4 separate regions of the Homo sapiens genome follow, and all the other regions are reported to be linked to region 1. Evidence: microRNA targets listed by miRTarBase, many of them from high-throughput screens and not tested one by one. Region 1 holds a microRNA gene; each other region holds the end of a gene's coding sequence.

Evidence for each region. Region 1 holds the annotated microRNA hsa-miR-541-5p (AAAGGAUUCUGCUGUCGGUCCCACU, at 3,201-3,225, opposite strand). A microRNA usually pairs through its seed, bases 2 to 8, with sites in the 3' UTR of a target mRNA and lowers its output. Matches are read on the target gene's strand: a 7mer-m8 pairs with bases 2 to 8, a 7mer-A1 pairs with bases 2 to 7 and ends in A, and an 8mer does both.
Region 2: the mRNA of TMEM135 is a reported target of hsa-miR-541-5p. Seed matches in the 3' UTR shown: 7mer-m8 at 2,279-2,285 and 7mer-m8 at 2,851-2,857.
Region 3: miRTarBase lists IREB2 as a target of hsa-miR-541-5p. Seed matches in the 3' UTR shown: 8mer at 6,337-6,344 and 7mer-A1 at 5,862-5,868.
Region 4: miRTarBase lists HDGFL3 as a target of hsa-miR-541-5p. Seed matches in the 3' UTR shown: 7mer-A1 at 1,976-1,982.

The regions. Positions count from the first base shown.
Region 1 is chr14:101,060,563-101,067,728 of GRCh38, reverse strand. It overlaps MIR541 (microRNA 541), which reads right to left and starts at 3,234; the gene lies at 3,151-3,234. It overlaps MIR496 (microRNA 496), which reads right to left and starts at 7,156; the gene lies at 7,055-7,156. MIR377 (microRNA 377) reads right to left here and starts at 5,679; the gene lies at 5,611-5,679. It overlaps MIR409 (microRNA 409), which reads right to left and starts at 2,429; the gene lies at 2,351-2,429. It also overlaps MIR412, MIR369, MIR410 and MIR656.
Region 2 is chr11:87,319,903-87,327,068 of GRCh38, forward strand. TMEM135 (transmembrane protein 135) reads left to right here. Exons shown (of 15, transcript NM_022918.4): 15 at 1,299-7,166. The coding sequence ends at 1,431. It also overlaps the pseudogene LOC100420680. Among named protein-coding and RNA genes, the nearest start is that of TMEM135, 290 kb to the left of the region's middle.
Region 3 is chr15:78,497,386-78,504,551 of GRCh38, reverse strand. It overlaps IREB2 (iron responsive element binding protein 2), which reads right to left. Exons shown (of 22, transcript NM_004136.4): 22 at 3,099-6,519. The coding sequence ends at 6,409. Among named protein-coding and RNA genes, the nearest start is that of HYKK, 6.6 kb to the left of the region's middle.
Region 4 is chr15:83,133,396-83,140,395 of GRCh38, reverse strand. HDGFL3 (HDGF like 3) reads left to right here. Exons shown (of 6, transcript NM_016073.4): 6 at 1,121-7,000. The coding sequence ends at 1,126. It overlaps TM6SF1 (transmembrane 6 superfamily member 1), which reads right to left. Exons shown (of 10, transcript NM_023003.5): 10 at 2,988-3,915. The coding sequence ends at 3,724. Among named protein-coding and RNA genes, the nearest start is that of TM6SF1, 29 kb to the right of the region's middle.

The sequences.
Region 1 (7,166 bases):
AACACGTGGGGGATAGGCTGTGGCTCCAAAAGAAGAGGGGGGCTGCCACTCTGAGGGCCTGGGGGGTCCTCGGATCATTTTGGTACCAAGCCCAAGGGAAGGGGCCTGCAGAGGTGCCCTGGGCAGCGGAGTTAAACAGCTGGACTCTGCACTTGGAAATGCTCTCCCTGGCAGAGGGAGGGGCACTGGAGGGAGACCCAAGTGCCACAGGCTGGAGGGACCTAGCCTGTGGGGCGGCCTCTCCAGCAGGGCTGTGGCCCAGGGGCTGGGGAAGAGGGGTGCTGAGGGAGAGTGGGAGCAGGCAGCCCAGAGGGATGGTGCCAGGGATCCCCACTCCCATGCTAGGCATGGAGAGGAGCGGTCCCGAGGAGGAGGACAAGGGGGAGGGCAGGCACAGGCTGTGACTTCCAAGGCAGCGACGTCTCAACTAGGGGATGACGGGAGCCCAGCTCAGGAAGATCTCCCGAGCCCAGGAGCTCACTGATCAACAATGAGTGATAAAGGACAGCCTTAGCTCATTCTTTGGGGTCACTCCTGAGGTGCTCCTTGCCTTCAGCCCTGGACCCTGGGCATGGGCAGCATGTTCTGGAGTCACTAAGTCTCCAGGTCAGCTGCAAACAGGCCTCTGGTCATCTTCCTGTAGTCTGGGCAGGCCAGGGGTGCAAATATGACATAAGCATCGGGTAGCTGAGAGCCAGCCCAGCCTGGGGGATGTGCCAACCGGAAGCAAGGGCATGGCGGGTGCTCCCGCTGACACTGGAATTGGGGATGCCATTCTGTCACACTTCCAAAGCCCCCCAGAACAGAGTGGAGCTGGAAAATTAACAGGCCAAGTGACACAGGTCCTACACAAAGTCCACAGGGTCAACCAGCGCAGAGCCAGCTGCTGCCTGGAGTTGACAGCAAAGAGGAAGGCATCCAAGGTGGGATTCGATATCGGAAAGAGGTTGACTGTATAATATTCATCATATAGAAAGTGAACACCTCACAGGCAACCTATTTCAGGTACCACTGAGCAGCACTGACTCCAGGGAGGAGGCTTCTTCCACAGGGAAGGGCCCTGCCACCCACCCGCCTCCAGGATGGAGGCCAGCACAGGGCTGCAGGTGGAAGTCAAGCGCGTGCTCGGCCACCAGCCATGCCTCTGGGGGCCCACAGGGCGCGCAACCGGACCTCCCCGACATCAGCAGGTGCAGGAATCATGCAGGTGGGATCTGATACTGAAGAGAGGCCGCTCGTGTCTTGTGTGTCATGATTTCTGTGAATGCAACACAGGCCACCTCTCCTCAGGCACCACAAGGAGCAGCACACGCACACGGCCACCCAAGGCACCAGCTCCCACCCAGGGTCTCACAGCACTGAGATGAGCAGAAGGCAGCCCAGGTGCAGGGAATGCATGCAGCCGCCCCCAACATCCTGGCGAGGGGTGGGTGGCCTTCCAGCAGGATGCCTTCCAGCGGGACTAGCTCCCCCGTGTCCTCTGCCTCGATGACACTGGCCATGAAAAACAGACTGAGCCCCGTCACCATTGCTCATCAGCTTCATGACCGCCCCCCACCACAGTGCACAACCCTAGCATCTTCCCCAAAGTCCACATGGCCCCCCGAAAGCTCTCCCAAAATGATTCAATGGCGGGGGTCAGGGGAAAGGATGACAAATGTCACACCAGCCCATGCATTCACGTACCCTGGAAAGTCCCGCCTCAGGCGTGGCGCCCGCACACCACCGGGCGGTAGCGGTACTGAAAACAGGCCATCTGTGTTATATTCGTCATTAATAAAAGCGAACTCATCACAGACAACCTCTTCTCAGGTACCCAGAGTGCCATCGGCTCAAGAACGTGGCTGCCGCGTCCCGTGGTGCCAGCGCTGCCCCCGGGAAGCAGTCCTGAGGACGGATGGGACATCAAAGGTGAGAAGACACAGAGACAGGAAAGAGACCCCTGCCCGGCCCACTCTCGGTGACCAGGCCCCACTGAGGCAGCGACTCCAAAGCACCCGTCCTGCTCCTACCCTCAAAAGGGCTTCATCTCCAACGGGTCCTCCAAGGTGAGATTTGATACTGAGAAAAGATCAACCATGTATTATTCGAAGTCAATAAAGCGAATATAACACGGTCGATCTCCCTTCAAGTACCAGGAAAGGCGCTGAGCTGAAGCGCGATCGGCTCCCCGGCCCGCAGGCCCCACAGGCTGCAGCGGATACGGACGGCTAGTGGACCAGGTGAAGTACATTAGAAACAATTACTTTCCAACTGGTCGACCATCCATCCCCGTACCCCAGAATGGTGCTGATGCCGGCGTCCTTCCCCGAGGTGCCCCAGCCTCCAAGACGGCCTCCCTGGTGGAATTTGATACCGAAAAGGGGTTCACCGAGCAACATTCGTCGTCCAGATGCAAAGTTGCTCGGGTAACCTCTCCCCGAGTACCATGGAGAGGCTCAGATGCTCGGACTAAGGTGAATGCTTGCAGGCGGCTGTGCTTGCAGAAGACCCTCCCCCAAGGGCAGCACAAGGTCTGGGCATTCAGAGCCCAGAGCCTCACACTCTCCAAGGACGTTCCCAATCACCAAGTCCAACGATTCCAACCCCTTCCAGAATGAATCTAGAGACTCTTCCCAGAAGTTGAGTGCAAGACCCAGGTAGGATCTTATACTGAAAAGACGGCAACCTTCCTTGGGCACCTTGCTAAAGATGAAAATGAAACCCTGCTCGCACCCGCTTTTCATTCCCAGACCCTGAGAGGGGGTGACCCTGTAGGGACCCCTGCACAAGCACAGAGCCTCCCTCCCAGCAGAGGATTCCTTTGGCGGGAGCTCAACGGGGCACAACGCTGACCCCAGACCTGCGGTCTCACCAGCACCATCTCCAGCCCACAGAGGCATCACCCCAGGATCCCTCAAAGAGTAACTTCACAGTTATCAACAGCTGGCTGACCATCTGATTAGCCTCATAAAGCAAGTGAGACATTCAAAATAAGGGACTGGGGGGATAAATGCAGCAGAAGAAAGCAGGTGAGTCACAGATGTCTTCTCTTCACAAGGGTCAGGGCAGCCCTGACCTCAGAACCCAACCTTCCCCAGACTCAGAGAACACCCAGAAGGTGCCTCCTGGAGCGGGCAGCCAGCAAGCATCGGGCCAGACGATGGATGCCACAAGCAGAGTCCAGATTCTGTGCCCACCACCCATTCTGTGAACTTTGGAGTGGGACCGACAGCAGAATCCTTTCCCTGACGTTGGCATGAGCTCAGAGAGCCCTCTGCGCCTTGCTACAAGTGGAGCAAGAGGCCAGCCATGCGAGGCCTGCTGTAAAGAAAGAAAAGATGTCACAGACGACTTCCCTTCAGGAGCCATGGGCACTGACCTGCATCAGAGCCTCCTTCCTGGGGCAGGCATCACCTCCCAAGGTGGTCCCGGAACGCACCGGAGTCAGCAGGAGTGGAACAGATGACATGCACCGTGGGTACAATCGGGCCTGTCCCATGGGCGGCCCTCAGGCACCTGCCCTGGAGAGGGCTCCGGCTGCAGGCCGCCTCCTGAGGGTGCTGTTGCTTCTGGAAATTCTCCAGGTAGGGTTTGATCTGAAAAGAAAGCCATGTGCAATGCTGGTCACCAACAAAGCAGGCCAGCAAACAACGAGCTCTTTCCACAGCCCCAGCAAGGTTTTTGACCTTGGAAACATCAACTCCAGAATGACTTTCAGCCTCTATGACCAAATGACATTCGGCACCAACGAAGGGCACGTCCTTGGGGCCAGCATGGAACCATGTAAGGTATCAACAGCAGAGTCTGAGGAAGGACTGAACCCCAGAATGTTCCTGGATGCCTGTGTGTTCATCAATAGCCTTGGAAGTGTGAAAGGAAAGTTATCTCGGGCCCCTAAAATCACTAAGGAAAACTCAAGCTGGAAGCTGCTCAGGATAAACCTGCCTCTCATTCCATTCAAAGTCATCCCTCTGCTCACTGAGACAGATGCGTATCTGATTTGCCTCCTTTGGAAAGGCTCATGAGAAACGCGAAAGAATGTAATCATTTGTGTATCACCTGTCTGTGACCTGGAAGCTCCCTCCTTCCTGCCTTCGCTTCAAGTTGTCCCACCTTTGCAGACAAAACCAATGTACTTCTTACATGTGCTGAATGATGTCTCATGTCTCCCTAAAATGTATAAAGCCAAGCTGTGCCTTGACCACAGTACTTCCTGAAGCTGTGTTACGGGTGTATCCTCAACCTTGTCAAAATAAACTTTCTAAATTAACTAAGAGCTGTCTCAGATTTTCTGAGTTCACAGAAGCAACTGTCCTGAAAGACCAGACCCCACTGACCGTAGAACTTCTGCTTCCCTCCGGAGTCAGCGTCTCACCCAGAACCCTCCGTGGGGATGGAGGGAGACCAGGTGATGCCTGTCACTTACGTATGAATGCTCTGGGGACAACATGCACCCAGATCCCCGGGAGGACGCCTTACCAGTGTGTCACGCCTGAAGTCAGCACACCTTTCCGGGAAGCTCTCGGGAAGGTTTGGGGCAGCAAGAAAAGATCAACTGCATAAAGGGGGAGACTGTATCCCATTTTTTGACCCTAGGTTCCTACTGACCCCACCAACTCCACTGTAAACACGCACAAATGTAACCACCTTCACAAGAATTGTACCAACACTGATATTCATAGAAACGTGTTTTTCAGAGCCAATGCCATTATACTAATCCAATTCCCTGTTTAGCTTTCCTGACCGCGCTGTTGAGCTGTTTTCATTTCTCTTATTTCCCTTGTTATTTTCCCCAAATCATTTTCATTAGGATCAATTTTTTCCATTTAAAAATCTGCATGAAGATTTGATTCCTCAATGTGTTCTTGTCTACATCAAATATCACTGTTTATCACCGCCGCCACCGTGAATTTCCTTCCATGGCTGCCACGTCGGCAGCTTGCTATTTCCCCAGGTCAAATGTCACAGCTGAAATGTTGTCAAGAAAATTGGATTCCTCTGCCAATTTGTAGTCAACTGAACACATTTAGCACTGTGCCGTTTCAGCTGTTTTTAGTTTTATTTTGTGTTGATTATTTTTATCAGTATTATTTAATACAAATGGGATGAGATACTGATAGCCTCTATTTGTTTCATAACCCAGGAGAAAATTGGGAACAATGTTTGGTTGGGGGATAGAAAGAGAAAGATAGAGACAAGGAAAGGTGCAGAAAGAAGCACAGTGCTTGTGAGCTAGACGGGGGTCTGGGGCTGCAGACTCGTCACAGACCCTGCCAAGTGTGAGCTCTTTGTGTATCCGCGAGGTCAAATACCTTCCGAAAAAAAAATGGTGGAGTCAAAATGTCTTTGGGATCAACACAGCCAAAATGGTGATGTAAAGAGACAGGGTCCAGGGTAAGAGCTAAAGCCGACGCGACACCAACGCCATCCTCCCCGGGCCGCGAGCCCCGCCCCCATCATGAATGAAGCTTGTGTTCTCTGAGCGACATCTGTTCTCATCCACCGCAGAGGACCGCAGAGGGCAGACCACCCACGTCTACCCCGTCCATTCTTGCTCACGGGAGGGGTGTAGATGCCCCTGAGCTTGCCACTGGGTCCCGGAAGCCATCCCAAGCAGGATTTGATACTCAAACAAAAGTTGCCTTTGTGTGATTCAACATAAATAAAGCGAATTCACCAAGGGCAACCTCTGCTCAAGGGTCAAACATCAGCACGGGCAAGAACACACCGAGATGCCTCTTCACCAAAGGCGGCATTGCCTGCGGGACCTCCCTGCTGACTCCAGCTGCAGGCTCGCTGGCTTGCTGGCTCGCTCTCTCCCCTCTTGCTCTCTCTCTCTCTCTACCTCCGAGAAGCCCCCCAGGCAGTGGTCAGAACATGGTTGGTCATGGACCAGCTTCTGTAGCCCTGGAGCAGGCAGTGGGGGCGAGGCTATGCACACACACATCACAGGTCAGCCCGAGCTAGAGTCAGCCCCTGGTCACCTACCCTAGAGGGGCTGGAACACCAAGGTCCACCTCCAGAGCCGGTATCTCCTCTGGAAGTCTCTGAAGCAGGATTTCACACAGAGAAGGGGGCTGCCAATGAACCATGTGACCGTGTTCAGTCCAGCCTACAGGGGTTTGAGGGAGGACCCGACCTGAAGGCTGGCGACTCCTCGTCCAGCGCAGCATCCTCAGAGGGTGGGTGGGGCTGCGTCACAGGGACAGCACAGGCTCAGGTGACTGTACTCCATGCACTCCATTCCAGGAGGCCTCAAAGAGAGTTCAACCAAGAAAACAGGTCACGCTGCCTATTCATTCATTCAGCATCACACCTACTGTGCACATCTGGCGACACAGCACCAGGCAAAACAGACAAGGACTCTGCCCTCAGGGAGCTTCCATTCTAGTGGCGAGAGGACAATGAGTGCAGATGACATAACATTCATATAATGACCATCCTCAGAAACAATGCTTATCCTACAGCCACGTGCCAGACGCTGTCTAGACACTTCACAAAGAGCACGTTTCCACTCCGCTGTTAACCCTGCTTTACAGAGGAAGAGACTGAGGCCCAGAGAGCTGATAGGTGAAGGGATTTTCCAAGGGCACACAGCTGGCAACATAAGGTAGTAATAAATGCTATTAACAATTCTCGTCTTGCAGTAGGAATAACCGAGTCGTGCCATGGAAATGTGTCTTTAAACAACATTAATTCTCACTGCTGAGGAAACCCCCTTCACCCCTTGCTTCCCAGAGGTCACCCAGAAGATAAGGTATTTGAGGGCGTAATGTGGATGTCTTCCATTCAGCCAGGAGTTCCTTTCCCTAAAGTGTGCCACACAGCCAAGATGATTTCACACCTAAAAAGGTTGACTAAATGTGGTTTATTCACTGACGAGTCTTCAAGGATGCGACTAGAAGACCACCATGTCAACTAAAACGTCAGCATCATTTCGGGGAATTCCTCCTAATGATGGCCGGGATATGAGCCAAGTGATGTAAGTCACACAGAGAGCACCTGTCATGCGGAGGTGATCCACTTCCTTACCCTGCGCAGGTGCCGGCTGGGCTTTCCCCTCGTGACGTTTCCCAAGAAGAATTGAGTACCGAAAGGAGATTGGCCATGTAATACTCATCATAAATAAAATGAACACACCATGGACAACCTCCATTCGAGTACCTGACTTGGGTGCTCGCTTC
Region 2 (7,166 bases), not on the chromosome of region 1:
CAGCTCTGCTACCTTCAGCTGTGTTGCTATGGAAAATTATTTACCCTCGTGAGCCTAAGTTTTTTTCGGTCTACAATGAAATAATAATGCATACATTGTATGGTTGTAGGAAAATTAAGATGCTTATAGTAGCGCTGGGTAAATTGCATGTATGAATTGCTATCATTATTAATAATAATAGCAAATACTAGTATAGTGCTGACAATGTCCAACATATGGTTTTAAGAGGCACACATACAATATCCATGTATACATAAATATGCATTTAATCCTTAAATCCTAACTGTAAGAGTTAGGTTCTGTTATTATCCCTGTTTTACATATGAGGAAACTAAAATGTACAAAGGGGTTAGATAGCTTGCCAGAGTCACTCAGTTAGTAAATGAAGGAGCTGGAACATAAACCAGGCAGTCTGGCTTCAGAACTTTCCCTCTTATCCATGTCACTGTAGATCCTTTACATTGTTATTGTTTAATCATTTTTTGTCATTTAGTTTTCTGCACATTAATAAGTTTTACTAATTGATTATTTTGGAAGGGAACTTACTTTGGAAAAGTACTGAAAGTCACATTTATAGGCTGTCAGAATAATGCTGGCCAGTGATTCAAAACTAATTTCATTCAGCTGTTTTCTCCAGAAAGGAAATGCTTGTGAATAAGCACAGAGACCCAGAAGGTCTATCCTGTACATTAGCTAAATTTGTGTGTTTAAAAAATGTTATATATCTTAGGTTAGGTAATGGATAACGTTAGGGTATATTTTTACTGTGTTGTGTCTATTAAACATTTGAAAACCTATATGCTGTTTGCCTTTTAGTCATTAAATGTTTGCACATTTGAATGTGTTTTCATTTGATGGTGAGACATTATGATGTCAATTATGAGAGAAATTACATTTAATGCTTTTGCCTCATTGGTAATGTTAGCTCATTTATTGTTTAGTTTCCTGTGAATTCATTCATCATAAAAATAATAATGAACCTAATTTTCTATTTGATACAGTCTAGTGGAAAGAATTCTAGAAGGGTTTAAAATAATGGTTGTAATCTCTGCGGTTTCAGATCTGGGGATTATCTCTTTAATCCTTAATCCTAACTGGATTATCTCTTTAAATAAAATATGAGACAGTGTATCTCGAAGAAGAGCCTTCATGTGACTTGAATCTGCCATTGAATTTAGATCCTTTGCCACGTTAGCCTTTTCTGTTTTCCCATCCCACATAAGATAAGTCAACTAAAATGAATTATTTTATTTTATAAACTATATTAATACTTGTTTACTGTATTCTTTGTTTTACAGATTTGCTGTCATGAACCGAAAAGTCCTTGATGTTTTTGGTACTGGTGCATCTAAACACTTTCAGGATTTCATCCCCAGGTTGGATCCAAGATACACAACTGTAACACCAGAGTTGCCCACAGAGTTTTCCTGAAGATGACTGTAACTTATTAATGTGACTAAATGTTTCATCTTGAAGAGTTAATTATGTTGAACACAAAGGAGGGGGCCCAAGCTCGAACTTCAGTGTTATTTCAGTTAGAGATACTCTTTTCATTTGTTTTGTTTTTCTTATGAATCAGAAATTCAGAAGCTTTTTAGGAAGATGTTGCTTAATAATTAAGCTTCCTCCATAGCCAGAATAAGATTCTGGATCACTGTAGTGACTGACATTATATATTATTGATCAAATTATGTCCACAAGCAATATTATATAATCTACGTAGAAGTGTAATAACAAACAAGAGTACACTTAAAATTACTTTAAAAGATGTCTTTAGTTCATTCCAATATAATTCTTGATTAAAATTAGGATTATTTCTACATTTTAGGATTTACAAAGGATCACGGGTACATGGATTTGGTCTATATATTTTTTTAAAGTTTTGAATTGGTATCTGTAGTAGTGGAATGTTATAGATTTGAAGTAACTCTCCACGGACAGTGCTGCTTTCGTGTAGAGCAATTTAATTGGAGAAGTGGCCATTCTTACTTCAGGGATGCAAAGATGGGTCTCATACCATTTGGATAAATGTCGTGGTATCCATGCTTTTTTTCAACTAATAACATCATCTCTCTTCATGACCAGTTAATTGGGCTATTTGGCAGCCCAGTGAACCTATGTACTAATGGCAAGTTAGGGGCAAATGGAAATGGACACATCCGATAAAGTTGAAATGTATGTTTTAATCTTTCACAGAAGTATTACACTTGAATATTTAAAAACAAAACTTTTAAACTTCCTATAGGTTTATGATGTTTGTTTTCATTTATATGGACATAATCCTTCATAGCTCAGTTTATATGCCATTGTTGTATTAGAAGGGATCAAAATCCTATGGAACAAAGTAGTCTTGGCAAGTTGGCAGTTTGTGTCCTCTCAGCTGTTTAACTTATGTAATGGATGTTTTGCACCTGAAAACACTATAAAAATCCAGTGGTTGTTTAAAAAGTCCATTTGTCACTAATTCCATTCAGGTTCTCCAACCTTCTTCTTGAATATCATTGTCACCATTTTTACTGTTAGAATAAAGAGGTGACACCATAAAGTCCTGCTGATAATGAGAGTAGTTCAGGACAGCTGTGATTGAAATATGGTCGCTATTTACAGTTTTTCAGGGAAAAGTTATACTTTTCTATGTTAATAAAGAGCTGAAGTGGTCTACAGTTAATGTGACATGTAGGGATGATGATATTTTTAAAATACATTTTGTTGCTAAAAAGTTTTTAGGCCAGTGCAAATTATGCAGTAGAACTTGTGTTGCAAAAGGAATTATAACCCATACTTTAAAAATGCTTAATCCCTCATATTCAATTTCATCAAGCCTTGTATACTTCTGCTTAAATGTAATTCAATCCTTGGTTGTTATGGCAAACAGAAACCCAACAAAAAGACAGACTCTGGTACTATGGTAACAGAGCCACTTTATCATTTGGTCAAAATTTGGCATTATGATTAGCTTTGTAGAACTGACCTGTTTATTTGGCAATGCTGTTAAAGGATCATTTCGGTTTCAGACTTCAAAGTTGATTAATAAATTTAATCTTAACTTTTTATTCACTGGAATCAAAACGATGGTTGGTACTGTGTTTACTGTTTAAAATGAAGTACTAAAGCCCTGAGAACTGCACCTCATTTTCTTTATCCAGAAATTGTGCTTATATATTTTCCTGTCAGGTTTAAAAAGATGTTTTAATTCATAAATTATTGTTTTCATTGACATTAAAAGACTGTGATATTGAAAGATGAATTACGAAATTTGCTGAGATTGTTTAGTAAAATTTTGCTGGTCAAAAAGGTGTATTTCTACAATTTACCTTTTCATTTTTATAAATTGCAGTCATTTTTTTAAATTTTATGTAAAATGTAAAATGAAATAGCTATCATGAAGCAGAATACAATGATGAATGTATAGGTTGAGTGAATAACCAATTTGCAGTGGTGGATTGAGAAGTCCAGTTTGATTTCATTGGGACAGACTGCAAAGTGTAGTTGTTTGAGCAAACACAAAGAAACTTTGTGTTTTTGAAGACAATCAGAATGATTACCTTTCTACCTCTAACTAATCAGGTATTGATTGACAACTTTTTGGCATTATAAATAAAGTAAAATAGATCTCTGCATTCCAAAATATGTTTTTTAGTTTATTTATATCCTGAAGAAATGGTAAGTTTTCACTGGAACTGATTACAGTAAACAATAATATGTCCCCTTAGTCTTTCTGACATTTTTATATAGATTGAGATTGAAAAACCGTGCATTTGGGGCAGTGGTATTATGGTCATTTCGTTGCTATTTTCTGTTTTAATAAAATCCTAGAACTAGTAGCAACCGAGTAAAGATTGAGTTTGCAAGATAACAGATTGTCTCAAATCTATTCAATTCTCAGCAGTTTTTCATCAAATAATTTCAGGATCCATTTTATTACTCATTTTTGAAGTAACACCTTTGGTTTAGTTTTATTTTCCCATAAATTCTGCTTTTGCTTCTGTAACTTTTTTCTTGAACTATAAGCATAGTCATCACTCAGTTGATATCTAGTTTATTTTTTGCCTTCATTCGTTGTTTAGTCAGTTGTTATTTAATTTAGAATTTTATATTTTTTTGGCTCTCAGATTTTATAATGAACTTTTATTAGACTGAACATGTATGTTTTTGATGGAATCCAAACTGAGCAAATGTCACACAGTATTTTCTTGTTGTGCTCGAGTGTTCGTCTCCTTGTAGATTGTATCTAGGCTAACATTTCATTTAGTTGTTAATGCTGACGTAATTGTTTCCTGCTTATATTTTATCATATCCCTGAGCTTCTGTGTGCTCTACATTTCATAGGTAATGAAAAGCAATGTCCTTTACTCTCAGGGAGCTTCGTCCACTTGCCTGTGTCACAACCTCTCCCTTGGTGCTAATTAGGAAGCTTCTTGTGGGACTGAAGGGAACTGACCACTGGAGCAATGGCCCAAATGTTGTTTTTGGAGCAGAGAAATTATTAGCCCAGAGATTCCTTAAATTCTCCGTGTGATTTATTTTTTTATTTTTTGAGTTGAGGTCTAGCTCTGTTGCCCGGGTTGGAGTACAGTGGTGCAATCATAGCTCATTGAAACCTCAAATTCCTTGGTTCAAGCAATTATTTCCCCTCAGTCTCTAATAGCTGGGACAACAGGCATGTGCCACCATGCCTGGCTAATATTTATTTTATTTATTTTTTTTTTGTAGAAACAAGGTGTTGCTATGTTGTCCAGGCTGGTCTTAAACTCCTGGCCTCAAGTGATCCTCTTGGGTTGGCCTCCCGGGACTCTGGGATTCCAGGTGTGAGCCACGGTACCTAGCCATATTTTTATTTGTATGAGTATTAAGTAGTTTGACACAGCAACAAAGTTGTCCTTTGTTTCCCAAAGGCAAAAGTATACATTTCTTACTAAGATATCTTATAAACATTCTCTCTCCTAACACCTCCTTCTAGTAATCATTTTCACATAGTAGAATACTTCACTCAGCTGAAAATGAGTGGCCAAGAAAAAAATACAAGAAAAGGAATAAGAAGTGATTATTTTCTTTAGGGCTGCACTTTGAATGTGATGAGTAATAAGGTTACCTTCATTGTGGAGGTGATGTTTACAATTGCCTCCAGCCCTTTACTATTGGTGCTGAAGCCACCATTGGTGCCAGCTCTATAATTTCTTCTTCTTGTGGAATTAACAAAGAAAGGAGTGTCAAGGACTGAGATGACCCTCAGATTGGGGGGCTGTCTTAGATTCTAGGGCTTTGTAGTACTATGTTTCTGTTTAAAGTAGTGGCCTCAGGTGACTTTGTAATAGCCCTGTAGTTGCAAAAAGGGTAACTACAAAGAAATGAAACTGACTCTAGTGTGTGTGACTTCTGGAAACAGAAGTGGGGCAGTAAGTTGGCCATGATATAGCTAGTGTCATAGGACTACAGCAGAGTAGTGAGTGAATGGCCTTAAGCTTACAGCTGTGGTGAATAAGAATGTGTGCTATTTTACACACAGAAGAAAATGATTGACTTTTGGTTGGAGGAAAGAATTTATATCTGGTCTTTTGGAAATTATTCTGTTGCTGTTTTATGTGGGCTCTCTCTCTCTCCCTCTCTCTCTCTCTCTGTCTGTCTCTCTTGCTGCTCCCTCTCCCTGCCACCTTGTCCATTCTCTGCTTGCTGGTGTTACTTTATGTTAACTAGTCTCCTTGGACTTCATTGCAACCTTTTAAGCCAGCCGTTCAAGTGAGAGGCTCTGGAGTGATCATAACGGTGATAACAATGGAGTAAACATTTCCAGAGACACTGATTTTTTTTTTATATGCTCTGTTTTTCTTAGGCAGGATGATGTAGAAGATAATTGCACAGATATGGAAGGAGATGTTTCTCTGTATGTGAAGCCTTTAAATCCAGAACAATTAATTTCTTCTCTTCTTAAAACCCCGTAACATCACTTGACTCTGGAATTTCCTATTTTCTTTTACTTTCTCCATTTTTTTTCCATCTGTCCCTCCTACGAATATGTTTTACATGAAATAATGTATTGGGTTTTATCTTTTGTCCCAGCAGACCTGAAAATCCCAGTATATTACCACAGACACACATACCATCTGGTCACCAACAGGGACATCAGGGCCAAGAGCAGTTTATACTTCTTTCTTTAGCTCACAAACTACTATAGCTTGCCTGTTCAGTTTTTTTTTTTTTTAATATTCAGTTTTGTGCCATACTCTCCCCCACCCCCAGCCTGCTGCCTCTGCAGAGCATAACATTCTAATCTTGTCAGACCGTGGATAATAGGATGTTCCCTGGTCTTGGCATAGAGGCCATAGGCATACAACATGCTTTATCTGCCTTGCTTAGACTCAGCATCCCTTTCTGTCTTGAGAGATTCAGGCTTCCATAAAGTAGACCTGTAGACCTATGTTGGCTGAGGTCACCCTGCATTACTACTTTCCTCCATCCCTGAACTAGGACCAGTTAATTTTCGAAGTCTAGTTCTTCAGTGTCTATTAAACTTTTTCCAGTAGTTAATCGATCTCTTAAATTAATTTTCTTTTCAGATTATTTTTGGTCACCTAAGAGGACCCTGAAGCTATAGTGCCAAAGGTTTAAAGCATGAAGTACATTCTGTGGTTGGTCATTATGGGATTGGATGCCAAAAGGAATGGGAGAGAAGAGACTATAAACATATTTTAAGCCTTATCTCTTTTCTCCTATTCTTTTCTTTACCTTTCCTGGCCCATGCTTTCCTGCCATATCTTTGCTATGTATTTCTTCATCTTGAGCTCTCAAGGGAAAAAACAGGAGTCCTTATTTTTCTATTTATTTCAGGGAAAATTGAAGGTAAATAATATCTGCAAAGCTTCAGGAAGAAATTCAGTTGCATCTGAATCTGAGTCGGCAGTTTTTGATAGCCTGTCACTGCTCAGGGATAGCACTAAGGCTCTCTTCAGAACCAAAGGGCAGGATAAATAAATCTATGAAACTAGAGGCATCATTGAATCATCTGAGGACCTTTTTTTTTTTTTTTTTTTCACTAAAACGCTTCCTATAACTTGGATTAAAATTCAAAAATGGGATTGCAGTCATTGTTAATTGCTCAACTAGTGGCAGTTTTTCCTTGCTGAGGGAACACTGATGTTGTTTAAGACAGTTACATGCCTAGCCCCAGG
Region 3 (7,166 bases), not on the chromosome of region 1:
GTGCGGTCTCAGCTCACTGCAACCACCGCCTCCTGGGTTCAAGCGATTCTCCCGCCTCAGCCTCCCGAGTAGCTGGGACTACAGGCACATGCCACCATACCCAGCTAATTTTTGTATTTTTAGTAGACACGGGGTTTCACTATGTTGGCCAGGCTGGTCTCGAACTGACCTCGTGATCCGCCCGCCTTGGCATCCCAAAGTGCTGGGATTACAGGTGTGAGCCACCGTGTCCGGCCAGATATGTCATTTTAAGCGGGGCATGGTGTTGCATGTCTATAGTCCCAGCTACTCCAGGAGGCTTGGGCAGGAAAAGTGCTTGAGCCCAGGAGTTCGAGGTCAGCCTGGGCCACATAGTGAGACCCGTTTCTAGGGGGGAAAAATGTCATGTCATTGTATTAACGTTTCTTCAGTTGGCTACTGGAGCACTTTTAAGTAGTTGCTCTCAAACATAGCTCAGTGGCTGGTCATGGTGGCTCATGCCTGTAATCCCAGCAGTCTGGGAGGCTGAGGTGGGAGGACTGATTGAGGCCAGGCGTTCAAGACCAGCCTGGGCAACACAGTGAGACCCCCACCTCTATTTTTATAATTTTTTTAAAAAAGAGCTCAGCGATAAAAAAAAAAAAAAAACAAAACTGGAGTGAAACAAAATGAACAATTTGCAGTGAGATTATGGACATGATTTTACATTATAAAACAATGTCTCATAAAACAATATCCCAGCAGTTTTATGATACTTCCTTTATATATTACAAGTTGTTTAAAATGCTCAAAATTGGCTTTAGTTTCCACGGTGGGCTACAGCTAAAGCAGCACTTAGAGGAAAATTTAAATATTTACATTTACATTGGAGGAAAAGTGTTACAAAGCTGGGGGAAAGGAGGAAATTAAATAAGTAACAGAAAGGAAATACTTCAGAGCAGAAACCAATAAAACAAAACAAACCGGGCACGGTGGCTCATGCCTGTAATCCCAGCACTTTGGGAGGCCCCGGTGGGCGGATCACAAGGTCAGGAGTTTGAGACCACCCTGGCCAACATGGTGAAACCCCGTCTCTACTAAAAATACAAAACAAATTAGCCAGACATGGTGGCGCATGCCTGTAATCACAGCTACTCGGGAGGCTGAGGCAGGAGAATCACTTGAACCCGGGAGGTGGAGGTTGCAGTGAGCCGAGATCGCACCATTGCACTCCAGCCTGGGCAACAGAGCCAGATTCCGTCTCAAAAAGAAAAAAAAAAAAAAAAAATCCAAAACCAAAACCAAACAAAAAACCAGAAAACAATGGAGAAAATAATGTAAAAAATTGGCTCTTTAAAAAATTAACTCAATTTCTAACCCTTTAGAAAGACTAATCAAGGAAAAAAAAGAAAACACAAATTACCAATATTGGTAATAAAAAGGGACCCTGCCACAGATCATATAGATATTGATAGGGAAATACTGAAAAAAATGCTTAAAATTCAGTACTAACACCACATAAACACAAAATTCACAGTGACAACACACTTATTTAAAAGACAGGGTCTTGCTGTCACCCAGGCTGGAGTGCAGTGGCATAAATCATAGCTCACTGCAGCCTCAACCTAGGCTCAAGCGATCCTCCTGCCTCAGCCTCCCAACTAGCTGGGACTACAGGTGCACAGCACCACACCAAACTAATTATTATTATTTTTTAAGAAACAGGGTCTTGCTATGTTGCCCAGGGTGGGGTCAAATTCCTGACTTCAAGTGATCCTCCTGCCTCCTGCCTTGGCCTCCCAAAGTGTGAACCACCTCGCCTGGCCACACTTGTCATTATACCAGCAAATTTTGTGAGAATTACATATGCATCTGCTTTTGCAATAAATGCATTTTTCAAGTACAGAACACAGGTTTACAACATACATCAAATCAAAATGGTAAATCTGAAGCTACTTTGTAATTAAAAAGCAAAATTAGCATCAAGTGAAAACTGTAAACCAACTAAATGCTACACTGATGAAGCTCTTAAGTTTCCTCCTAGACTGCATATTCAAACTATCAGCTTGTGCCTATGTTGGTATTAGCCTTTAGGTAATGCAAACTTCTTAGAATACTAAATTGGAATCCTTAGAAAATTCTAATAAAGTGCCAATTATGGTTTATGATTACTGAATTCTAAGAAATAAACCTTACTCTTTTAGGTTGCTAATAATAGTGGGAAGAAAGGATACGTCTTTTTGGATGAGTGTCCCCGCCCAAATCTCATGTCGGATTGTAATCCCCAGTGTTGGAGGTGGGGCCTGGTGGGAGGTGACTGGATTATGGGGGTGGTTTCTTATGGTTTAACACCATCCCCCTTGGTGTTGTCCCAATAGTGAGTTCTCCTGAGATCTAGTTGTTTAAAAGTGTGTGGCACCTCCCCTGTCTCTCTGTTCCTCCTGCTCTGGCCACGTGAAGTGCTTGCTCCCACTTAATCTTCCACCTTGATTGTAAGTTTCCTGAGGCCTCCCCAGAAGCCAAGCAGATGCCAGCATCATGCTTCCTGTACATCCTGCAGAACCATGAGCCAATTAAACCTCTTTTTAAAATAAATTACCCAGTCTCAGGCATTTCTTTATACCAATGCGAGAACAAACAAATACACCTGGGATCCTGGCTCCCAGCTTCCGATGACTTGTTTCATGAACACTAATGAACGGGCAGCACAGGGAGCAGGCATCCTCAGCTGCTCCTGGATGGCATCTGGATGGCGGGACATTTCATTTTTGCTTTTTTTTTTTTTTTTTGAGACAGAGTCTCACTGTTTCGCCCAGGCTGGAGTGCAGTGGCGTGAACTCTGCTCACTGCAAACTCTGCCTCCCGGGTTTATGCTATCCTCCTGCCTCAGCCTCCCAAGTAGCTGGGACTACAGGCGCCCGCCATCATGTCCGGCTAATTTTTTTGTATTTTTAGTACAGACAGGGTTTCACTGTGTTGGCCAGGATGGTCTCGATCTCCTGACCTCGTGATCCGCCTGCCTCGGCCTCCCAAAGTGCTGGGATTACAGGCGTGAGCCACCGTGCCCAGCCGGATGGCAGCATATTTTTTACATCATGTTGTTTTATTTTCAACTACTACAAAACAGAACAAGAATCAAATGTGATAATACAATTTTCTTTATTAAAAATAATTTACAGCATCAGTAACATATACACAATTGTCATCAACTGAACTTTGCCTCCAATATATTTCTATACAATACTTAACATTATTGAACTTAAAACTGTTACACTGTTTTGTTGGCTTTAAATAATAGACAATGATTTTTGTCTATTACTTAGTGATAGACAAAGTGATTACTTTGTTACTTAAGTGAGATATATGGTTTCATAGCCACATATTATGTGTAAAATTGATAGAAACGTCAGCAATATCACTCTTTAGGGGAAAAAACACTGAAAAGCCAAAGTCCACCCTCTTCTTCTCTCTTATTACTCCAACCAAACTAAGATAGGATAAACATCCAGTATCTTAGTATCTCCTCCTAAACCTAAAGACAAAAGAAAGGTGTCTTCTATTCAACCACAGAAAAATGTCAAATAATTTCTTCTCATCCTCTCACTCATCACTGTGAAAGCAAATGCACACGACCTTGTTACCATATATGCAGGCAACTATGATTCTGATTTAGGTCCTAGCTTTACTTTCCTTTAGTACAACTGTTGTTTGATTACCAACGAAAAACTAAGCAATCTGGCTAGAGGGATACTAGTACCTTCTTTCAAATGTCAGCATGGAGATAAAACAAAATAGTGATAACTGTCATCTTAGAAACTTTTTAGATATAATAATGGCAATTCAGTGGCTGGATGACATTTCCATTGATTCCATTGTATAAGAGTAGCAAAACCCCAAAATATGAAAATGGCAATGATATGTAGCATAATGTTTTCAAAGTATAAAAAAAACCCTGCTGTTGGTAGTGACCTTTGAAATTGTACTTTAAGCTTACAACACTGATTTGCTTTTCTTGTGTGTCTGACATTACACTTCCTTTTTTTTTTTTTTTTTTTGGTAACACAAAATTACCCAAGGTATAGTAAACAAAGAAGACACAGACAATAAAAACTAACAGATGCCACATTTTGCAAACATAGCATTTGGCTAGAGGCAGAATTATAAGGTATACATATTAAAACATACATCCAAGACTCTCCTCCTCAATTTGAAACCATGTTTATCAAGTTTTTACTTCATTGTATATAAGCCAAAAAATTAAGAGAACCTTGATTTGTTCCTGAAATACAAGATTTGCTTGTATTATTACTGGACCAGGTAGACTGGATATGTGAATGTTTAATTCATAGTTAGCTAGCTTTACCATCATCTCCTGAATCAGCTGCTGAGGATGCCTGTGCCTCTGCCCATAACTATATATAGAGTATGCTTTCAAAACAATATAGGCCGGGTGTGGTGGCTCACACCTGTAATCCCAGCACTTGTGGAGGCCAAGGCGGGCGGATCACGAGGTCAAGAGATTCAGATCATCTGGCCAACATGGTGAAACCCCATCTCTACTAAAACTACAAAAATTAGCTGGGCGTGGTGGTGCATGCTTGTAGTCCCAGCTACTCAGGAGGCTGAGGCAGGAGAATCCCCTGAACCCGGGAGGCGGAGGTTGCAGTGAGCCAAGATCGCGCCATTGCACTCCAGCCCAGCCACAGGGCAAGACTCCGTCTCAAAAAACAAAACAAAACAAAATAGATTTGTTTCCCCCTGCACAATCTGGAATTACCATTTCTTCAGAGCACATACAGGCATTTCATCTTTCAACCTGTAATTTCTCCTAACTCATGTTTTCATGTAAATTAAAAACACATGCACTAACAAATAAATATACAGCATATATCAAGAACACAATATAATTTGAAAGTGTCGAAGAAAATACTTATACAAAATTTAAATAAAGAAATCATTTTGTCGAACTCTAGTCCATCTTATTGTCTAAACACATATTTGCAAAATATTTTCAAAAGATTGTATGATTATGTGCAAAGTTCTTAGTGGTCTTCATCCACTGGTTTGGTAGTTTCAGCATTTTGCTTACAACAAGTAATTCTTTATGCAATGTGAACTAATTCTGAATTGCAGTAACTAACTAGGTCATAGAAAGATATCTATGTGAAAAAAAATCACTACAATTAACCTTTAGCCTGCTAGACTTAGTTTCTTAATTAAAAAAACAGTATAGAACCTTCTATAATTAATTTTCCAACCTTTTTAAAAAAAATTACCAAACATCTTGTTGACAGAACATTTGATGTGATGGGCAGACATGCATATTGAGGATATATAGTACTCAGCAACAACTTAAGTGTTTTATCCTTACGGTCAGCTTTGGTTAAAACAGTAACATAACAAAATTAATAGAATCATGCATCGCAGGTGATAAATGATTCAAAATGACAGGAAATCAATTTAATTAAGAAATAGCAACACTTAAAAAATGCATAGGGTTGAGCACCCGTATTATTGAGGGTGGATAATTTAAATGTATAGAAGAAATCAGTTCAGAGTTTAATGATTGAATAACATTCTCTTTAGCAACTATGAGTGTGAAATTTTGGTTAATGATACCGAAAATATTAGGTTATAGGAAGTTACAGTATTACATAAGGTGAGCAAAATAATCTAATCCAATTAATATAACGCCATCTGGGGGCTTGCCAGACAGTCACAGTGGCAAACTGCTGAAATATGAAAGGCTGCATCATATGTGATACATATTCCCACTGCTAATACATGGTGCCACACAATCAGTTGTATCCTGCCATGGTCCATCTTCATATGTGGAGGGAACCTTGGCTGGATTGGACAGAATGATTGTGACCTGGGGCAGGTTCCATCCCTTGCAGTTAGACTAAGGATAAACCTGGTTATATGACAAACTAAGAATGCCAAATGTGTCCAGCTCAATTCTGAAGAGGAATTAATATACTTAAAAGGTCCATTTATAAATGAGATTCCAATGGCCACAATTTTAGAGTCTAATCTGGCTTCTTATATTTCAATCTGCTACTCTTAAACCAACAAACAGTAGTACACAGTTTTATTGGTGCAAAACTAAACAAATCCAGGAAGGTTATTCATATAAGAATCTTCAACACAAATTCTGCCTTTATTTACAAAATGGTCTGATAAAATATCGCCCCCCCCCCATACTTACAGGTCTCTTCCACAACACACTTCACACGTTGATTTTAGCAATATTAATAGCACCATTCGTATATTATTTAAAATCAAGAAGATTTCATTTCAGTTACTATGTTGATTCATCATCATTTACATCCATGGATGAGATAAGTGAGTATACTGGGACTATCTGCTGCTCCATGGTAAGGATTCCTGGGTCCAGCACAAAAGGCTTTGCAGTTACCAGTTATGAAAGGTATCTATGGTAAGTAGATACTATGAGAATTTTCGTGCCACAAAGTTTAATAATCCTCCATGTTTGTATAATGTTATTTCCACATCATCTTCAAACGAAGCAATCACGCTGAATACTTTTCCAGTGCTTGTCTTGAAAGGAGCAAAAACATCTCATGTGAGCAAGTAAATCTTCCAGGTGCTACTTGATGGTTAAGACCATTTGTCTTCATATTTAATGACTATACTTGCCACAGATTCTGTCTGATTTATCTTGGTTCTAATTTCTTATATTCTGATTGCCTGAAACTTTGCTGCTGCTTGAAAAACACCTGAGATACCTGACCATGGGCTTCATAGTTAAGTAGAAAAATAGCTGCATTTAGATTTTGACTTATTAATTGGGGAAGTTATACTCACTACTCACATTCATTTTACACCAAATATTGATTGCATGTAATCAGTAACTCCTACTCTTTCCCCTTTTTTCTTAGTTGTAAAGTCTGTTTTGCTCTAACTTTGAACGCTCAACTTTGCTCTCTTTGGAGTGGTATGTATGCCTCGGTTAAAATTAGATCAGGACAGCAAAAAAATGACCACCATGAAAAGAAAGCTGACACTTGTTAAGTGGAAGTCAAGATTCCCCTTCATGTGTTCTTTTTTTCTGGTATAAGCACCCAGTTCTTTCCACTTTTCCTCAGAGAACATGAACTATTAACATAGCTAGATCTAAGTATGGAAGAGAGAGTCATCTTAAATGGCAACTTAACATTCATTAAGTGACATTAGTATATAATTTA
Region 4 (7,000 bases), not on the chromosome of region 1:
GAGTATAATCTTATAACTGGTGTTTTTGTTAAGAAATAATTAGGAGTCACCAGGCACTCCATTTTTTAAGTTCACAAATTTCAAACTTTTTTTTTAAAGATTTACTTCCTCATTTTAATAGGGACAGAAGGATAAAAAGTATATTTCTGCCATCTTAGGGGGATGGAAGTTTTGGTAACTCTCTCTCCTTTGAAGGTCCTGGAATCGTTTATTATAATATATACCATTTAGTATACATGTTGGGCTGTCTGAATGAGAACATACCCATCAGTGTGCACATGTGCTTACAAACATGTTCATTCATTTAGTGAAATTAAGAGTGGAAGCAGGCTGTTTTCAGAAAAAATATTTGAGGGCTGAGTTCCCTCTTTCATTCATCCCATGAGGGTATTACTAGGGGGTTTAATATATTTGGGTTAATGATGAGGGGGAAAAAATAGCATCCTTTTGGGGAAATAGAACCAGACACAATTTAAAGTGGGACCCAAATAGAAACATAATTCTTTTATGAAACAAATGTTTTATTTTCTGTTTGTCACACGGATGCCATCTAAATTTTAAAAGAAATCTAGGCTTCCTCTTATTCTTTATGTTTTTTTTAAAAGCAAGAAGTCAGAGACTTTGTACATCATGATTAACTTCTACATTTGTTTGAGCTATGTGTCACAAGTAATTAAGTTATAAATATTCTGAAGATTAATTGGTGCACACTCTAAGTGCTTTTTAAATTTTACACAGCTTACCTTTCTTTCTGAAGAATGTCCTCACAAAGATAGATTATATCAATTTCTCCACTGATGATGTATTCCAGCAATAAACATAGTCCTAGAATTGTAGAATGTGCACTGCTGCACTCTGTCCTAACAGACAGTAGACAAGGTTTATAATTTTTTTCTATGGGACACTAAAAATACCCTAGGATTTCCTTTAACTTTTTGCACTGACAGGTCTAAAGCAAAGCCACAGAAGCTGCTCTTGCTCAGTAAGTATTGTTAATGCTGCAGTGCATATTAAAATTTCAGAAAACCCAATTATGTACTATCTAGGTGTGGATAGCTCTCATTGTTAGTATCCTAAATCATCTAAAGGCTTGTTTTCTTTCTTTTTTTTTTTTTTACAGACCTAACTACCATAATGAATGCTGCATATTAAGAGAAACCACAAGAAGGTTATATGTTTGGTTGTCTAATATTCTTGGATTTGATATGAACCAACACATAGTCCTTGTTGTCATTGACAGAACCCCAGTTTGTATGTACATTATTCATATTCCTCTCTGTTGTGTTTCGGGGGGAAAAGACATTTTAGCCTTTTTTAAAAGTTACTGATTTAATTTCATGTTATTTGGTTGCATGAAGTTGCCCTTAACCACTAAGGATTATCAAGATTTTTGCGCAGACTTATACATGTCTAGGATCCTTTTATCAAGGCAGTTATGATCATCGTTTTCCTGCCTTGACCCCACCATCATCAAACACTCAGTTAAATATAAATTAACATTTTTTAGATGACCACTCAACATAATGCTTAAGAATGGAATTTCCTCTCTGTGACAGAACCCAGGAATTAATTCCTAAATACATAACGTTGGTATATTGAAGACGAAATTAAAATTGTCCTTCAGTTTTGAGGCCATGTGTAAAGTTTAACCATATTGTAAAATATCTATTCCGTATTAGAAATAGCTAGTTGACAGCTTATACTTCTCAAAATTCATATTGTTATGTACACAAACTAAGTTTCTATATGTGAAGTTAGTGAGTCTTTTTGTGTTACTCCAAAATAAAGGCAATGATTTATTTTTTTCCCAGTGCCAATACAATTTTGAGCTAAGCACTCAAGGTGGATACTTTACATTTTAAAGCTGGAATCAGCAACAGCCCTATGGGAAACCAGACAAAGCATTGACTTTTAAATGTAGACTTTTAAAATAAACTGTTTTCTTTTGGAACTACAATTAGAATAGTTAATATTCATCCTTAAACCATTATTATGTGTACATTATTGTTGCTATTGTGATAATAGAGAATTTTATTTATTTTTATGCCAGCTTATATTGTGAGAACACATTTAGTCAGTTTGGGTTTTATCAATCCTGTTAATGCTTGTCCTTGGAACATCTTTCGCGTATTCACGGTTTGTAGTTGAAAAGTTTACTGTAAAAAAATCAAAAACAAAAAAATGTATTGTTTTTACAGAATAAATTTATTGGAATGTGTACTGGGAGTAAGATTTGAGGTTGTAAGCAAACTAAGTTAGTGTAATTTGGCTTCATATATGTAACGTGAGGTATTAATGTAATTCATATATTAAAGCAAAAATTGTTCACAGCAAGCTGACAATAGAATCAAGTGCAGGTGAGGGTTTTTCTTTTTCTTTCTTTTTTTTTTTTTAAACACTCTCTGGGTTTTAGATTATTTGAAAACACTGTAGGGGATGATGGGGAGATGACTACATGATTTGCTTACACTTACATATTTACCAGCCCAGTGGACCCTAGATTTTGTAATTTGATATTATCCATGCATTGATTTGTATCCCATTTTCTTTTGGTTTTCTTGATGAGAGCTAATAAAAACATGAGAAAATGTGAGCAGACCTAAAAGCCTAGGGCCGTTAATAATGATGATGGTGATGATGGCAGCTAAGGGTATGAAAGCACCAGTCCATTTATCATTCCAGGGCACAGTGAGGAGGTGGCTGTTTGTATTTTTGGTGTGTTTCTTTCATTTAGTGAATACTGATTTTCTCTAGTATACTCAACATACAATCCCAAACATGAAAAGTTCATAAAAAGATAGTAGGGATGTCGATCTAATACTTCTTCCTTAAAAGGTCCTTTTTAATTTTGAATATTTGAATGTATTTTTTAATTAATGAAATTTAATTCATCAAAAGACCTCTTCATTGCTCACACTGAAACATAAGGGGAATGTAGATGGCATTTTGAATTGGAATATACAACTCACAAATTTTCTTTAAAAGCGTTTTATGTGTATATATGAAATGTTTCAAATTTAATAAGATTTGTCTTTATAAGAGGCCAAAAATAATTTTATTAAAAATATACACAGAAATACAATAGAAATATTTCCAGCCACCAATAAAACAAATGTTCATTAAGGATAGAGATAAAGTTACTGATCCCTATTTAGCTGTTTAAATTCACACAAAAAAATTTAGTAAAAGTAATTTTCTTGAAACAGCAGCAAATAATAAACTTTCCTTGGGAAAACATTTTTCAAACAACATTTAAAAATATTCTGATGATTTGCCTTTTATATTGAGTTTAATAATGAAGCATATTCATCTTATTTGCAAAAGTTACTCCTCCAGTCTGCATTCACTGTTTTGAATTTTTTAATATGCACAGGCCATATTCTCTTTTGAATAGTTTCATTTCATGCTCACTACTGTTGGCACTAAATTGTAATTTTTTACACTTATAATTATTTTATATGTCAAACAATATTGAGATGGATGATCAAGTTTATTCACAAATGATTTTGAATATATTTCTTTAAACAAACTGTTTCTCAAGAATTTCCATTTTCCTTCAAAAAAAATTTACACAATACCATATAGCTCACACATACAGTGCAGAGCAAGAATGTACATATTCTTAAGTACTCACGTATGAGAAGAGAGTGAAATGGGACAAAATATCAGTACCAGTATAACAAAAGTTAGTAATTTAGAAAGGAGGAACATGAAGTAATATTTTTATTCCACTTTTTCTTCTGCCTTTGTTTTTATGAAGAACTCTGGTTTGTAGATACAACGATAGGCCAAGAGCTGAGGAAGAACTCCATATGCTATGTTTAATGCTAAAAAAAGGATTTTTGCTTCTTCAGGGACTCTGTAGACATAAGCAGTTCTAGCATGAAGAGATGCACCAATGTGAGAAAACTGAGCCTGTTGCATTTAAAAAAAAAAAATTGAGTAAGCATGAAACGTGTTCAGTTGGATGCATGATGAGTTCTGAATGGTTCATTCAGGCTACGTTTCTGTGCCCTCAAAACCAGTCTCACCTGCAGGCAAAATACCTTCAAACAATCCAGAGTCTTTAATGTCAGAGTCTTTCATTAAATTTAGTCCTTGATTAAATTTAGGGCCATTCTTGATATGACTGTTCAAATAAAGTAGATATTATTTAGTGTAGTTTTATCATGCCAGTTGTGTTTTTTAACCATCAAGTGCCCCTTACCGAACATTAGTGGCTCAATCTAATAGAAAAATCTGAATAAAATCTCAAATTTTTTTCTGATTTGCGTTCTGGAGATCCTGCATACAGACTCAGTTGTGGTTCACAAATTGCGTTCCAATAAAAATGAAGAAAGCGCAGAGTTTTAAAAAACAAATATTTTTAGCATAAACTATTGAAAGGGAAGCACTGGGGGGACCTCAGCTTCATTTATCAGTCTTTCATCTACTCCTTGCAGCAAGAGCTCATACCCTTTCCCTATGTGTTTTTTGTTTATTCATTTATTCATGTATTTGTTTTTTCTGCAGCTTTTAAAATATTAAGGGTTGTTTGTAAGATAAGGTTGTTACCAACTTGGGTGGAGGTAGGAGTACGGTTGCTCTTTGTAAAATGGCAAATGTACATGCAGGCAACCTTTTTAAATCAAATTATAATTTATTTAGAAGTACGACATGTCAGCATTATCCGCATTTGCAAAATGGCCTCCCTCTCTACTTATATACTTATTCAGAAAACACATTCAGAATGTGCCAATTGGTCTTTTTTGATATTTTTCGCAAGCACAGAGGAAAACCGTATTGGAAAGGGTAAAACAGACCACAGCAGGATTAAAAGCTCCTGTCAGAAAATTTCCTCAGAAGGCTTGTATCATTACAAAATGTACCCCTGGAGTCTGCATTTTCATATCTTGCTGAAATTCAAGATACACATGAATAAAGGATTGGGAATCTAAATGTAATAAGTAGTAAATTATCAGTTCATCAGGATCAAAGAGACAAAAGACTGCACTATAGAGAAGGCATAGAAGTAACAAGAATGAAGAACTAGATAATTTGCTTTAAATACATATAAGTTATTTTACATTTCTTCCATATGAAACCAATTTATTCTGCTGAGTGATTTCACAGATAAAGGTGTTACTTACTTGACTTCACCATGACAAGAAAAGGACAAGTTTTTTTAAGCAGCATCTTTATGAATTTTTTATCAGTGGCAGATATTTTAATGGGCTGCATTTTTACAAATTCCTGATATATTCTGGAGACCTGTGGTACATTTTTGCTACTCTGGAGATATAAATTAAATTAGCATGATGTATTGCCAAGGACCAGCACGTGGATTGTCTACATTGTGATCCATGAGGCACTGAGAGGACTCGGCCCTCAGATACAACTCCCCTGGGTAGATGCCCAGGCAGAACCCAGCAAATGTATATGCATCTCTGGGCTCTGAGGACAAAATGCCTTGAGAGTAAAGGGCACTTTCAGGGCTGCCCTGAGGAGGTGCTTTCTGGACATTCTAGGAACTCTGAGCAGGAGCATGGCTCCCATACTGTTTTTCCTTAGGGCCTGTTTTGAATAATAGTGTTTTTCTGAATATATAACCAAGCATTTTCTCTGGACTGGAAGCCACATTTGATCCCTGGTTCTCAGAAATCTGGGTTTGGTGGTTCTGTCTTTATAGATACTTGTACACATCACAAAATCACCAAATTTGGGGAAATGCCAACCATACTTTGAGAGAATAAATATGAGCAGTTGTGCCTACTTGCATAGGGGAGCCTGTGTAAAAAGTCAGTGATTCCGTAGGCTCTTTTCCTGCACTAACCAGTGCAGTTAATACCTCACTTTCATGAACAGCAAACTCATGGCAACATTAAGTGAATCATGGCCGGGCGCAGTGGCTCACGCCTGTAATCCCAGTACTTTGGGAGGCCAAGGCGGGTGGATCACCTGAGGTCAGGAGTTCAAGACGAGCCTGGCCAACATAGTGAAACCCCATCTCTACTAAAAAATACAAAAAATTAGCCGGGCGTGGTGGCAGACGCCTGTAATCTCAGCTGCTCGGGAGGCTGAGGCAGGAGAATTGCTTGAACCCGGGGAGTGGAGGTTGCAGTGAGCCAAGATTGTGCCACTGCACTCCAGCCTGGGTGACAGAGTGAGACTCTGTCTTTAAAAAAAAAAAAAGATTCATGTCCTTAGATTAGATTGTAAGCCCACTGGGCAGGTACTGTGTCTAATGTTTTGTGTGGCACCTGTCACATTGTTAGAGCTCAATAAACGTTCAACAACAATGGACTTGTGACTGTCAAAATACAAAAAGGGTCTACAAAGCATTTCTCTAGTTTTGTATGTATTTTAGTAGGCCTCTTTATTCAGAATTATTAAACAAGGCACAAAAATTTTAACATTCATAATCAAAAGAGGCATTTGTATGTGAGAGAAGAACTCTAAGGCCAGTGGTGTGCAGCTCCCAGTACTGCTCATAGTCCTAATGGATGTACTTATGGTGGCCACACTTCCAGCTGAGTGAGCACCTGACCATAGCTTTCTCCTAAGGCATAGGATGTTAAGTGTTCAGGGTTCTGAAGTTCAGAAAAACAGTCTCACCTGAGGAGGTTTCTCTTCCCAAGCACATAGCTAATAAAGGGCTGCAGGTTTTCTCCTGGGTGATGTTCCCAGCAGCACAAGGCCTCTCATGGCAGGACCTGAAGAGCTCAGCCTGAGCCTGTGCTGGGGTCAGGTGGCTCAGTGAACTCAATGCTGCTGAATTAACAGGAGGCCCAGGATTACAGATATGAGTTGTTGATCCTAGAAATTTCTCCAGAATTTAGCAATGTGAGGTTGAGTCCCTAATAATTTTTCTTCCACTTCATTCTAAATCATTTTCACCTTACAGAAATAATTAAGAGATATACTCTGATTTTTTTTTAAGAATGGATGATTGGAATGGCAAATGAGACAATAAGGTGAACAAAGGTTAAATTTTAAGAGCTGTTTTCTTACATGTATAGAG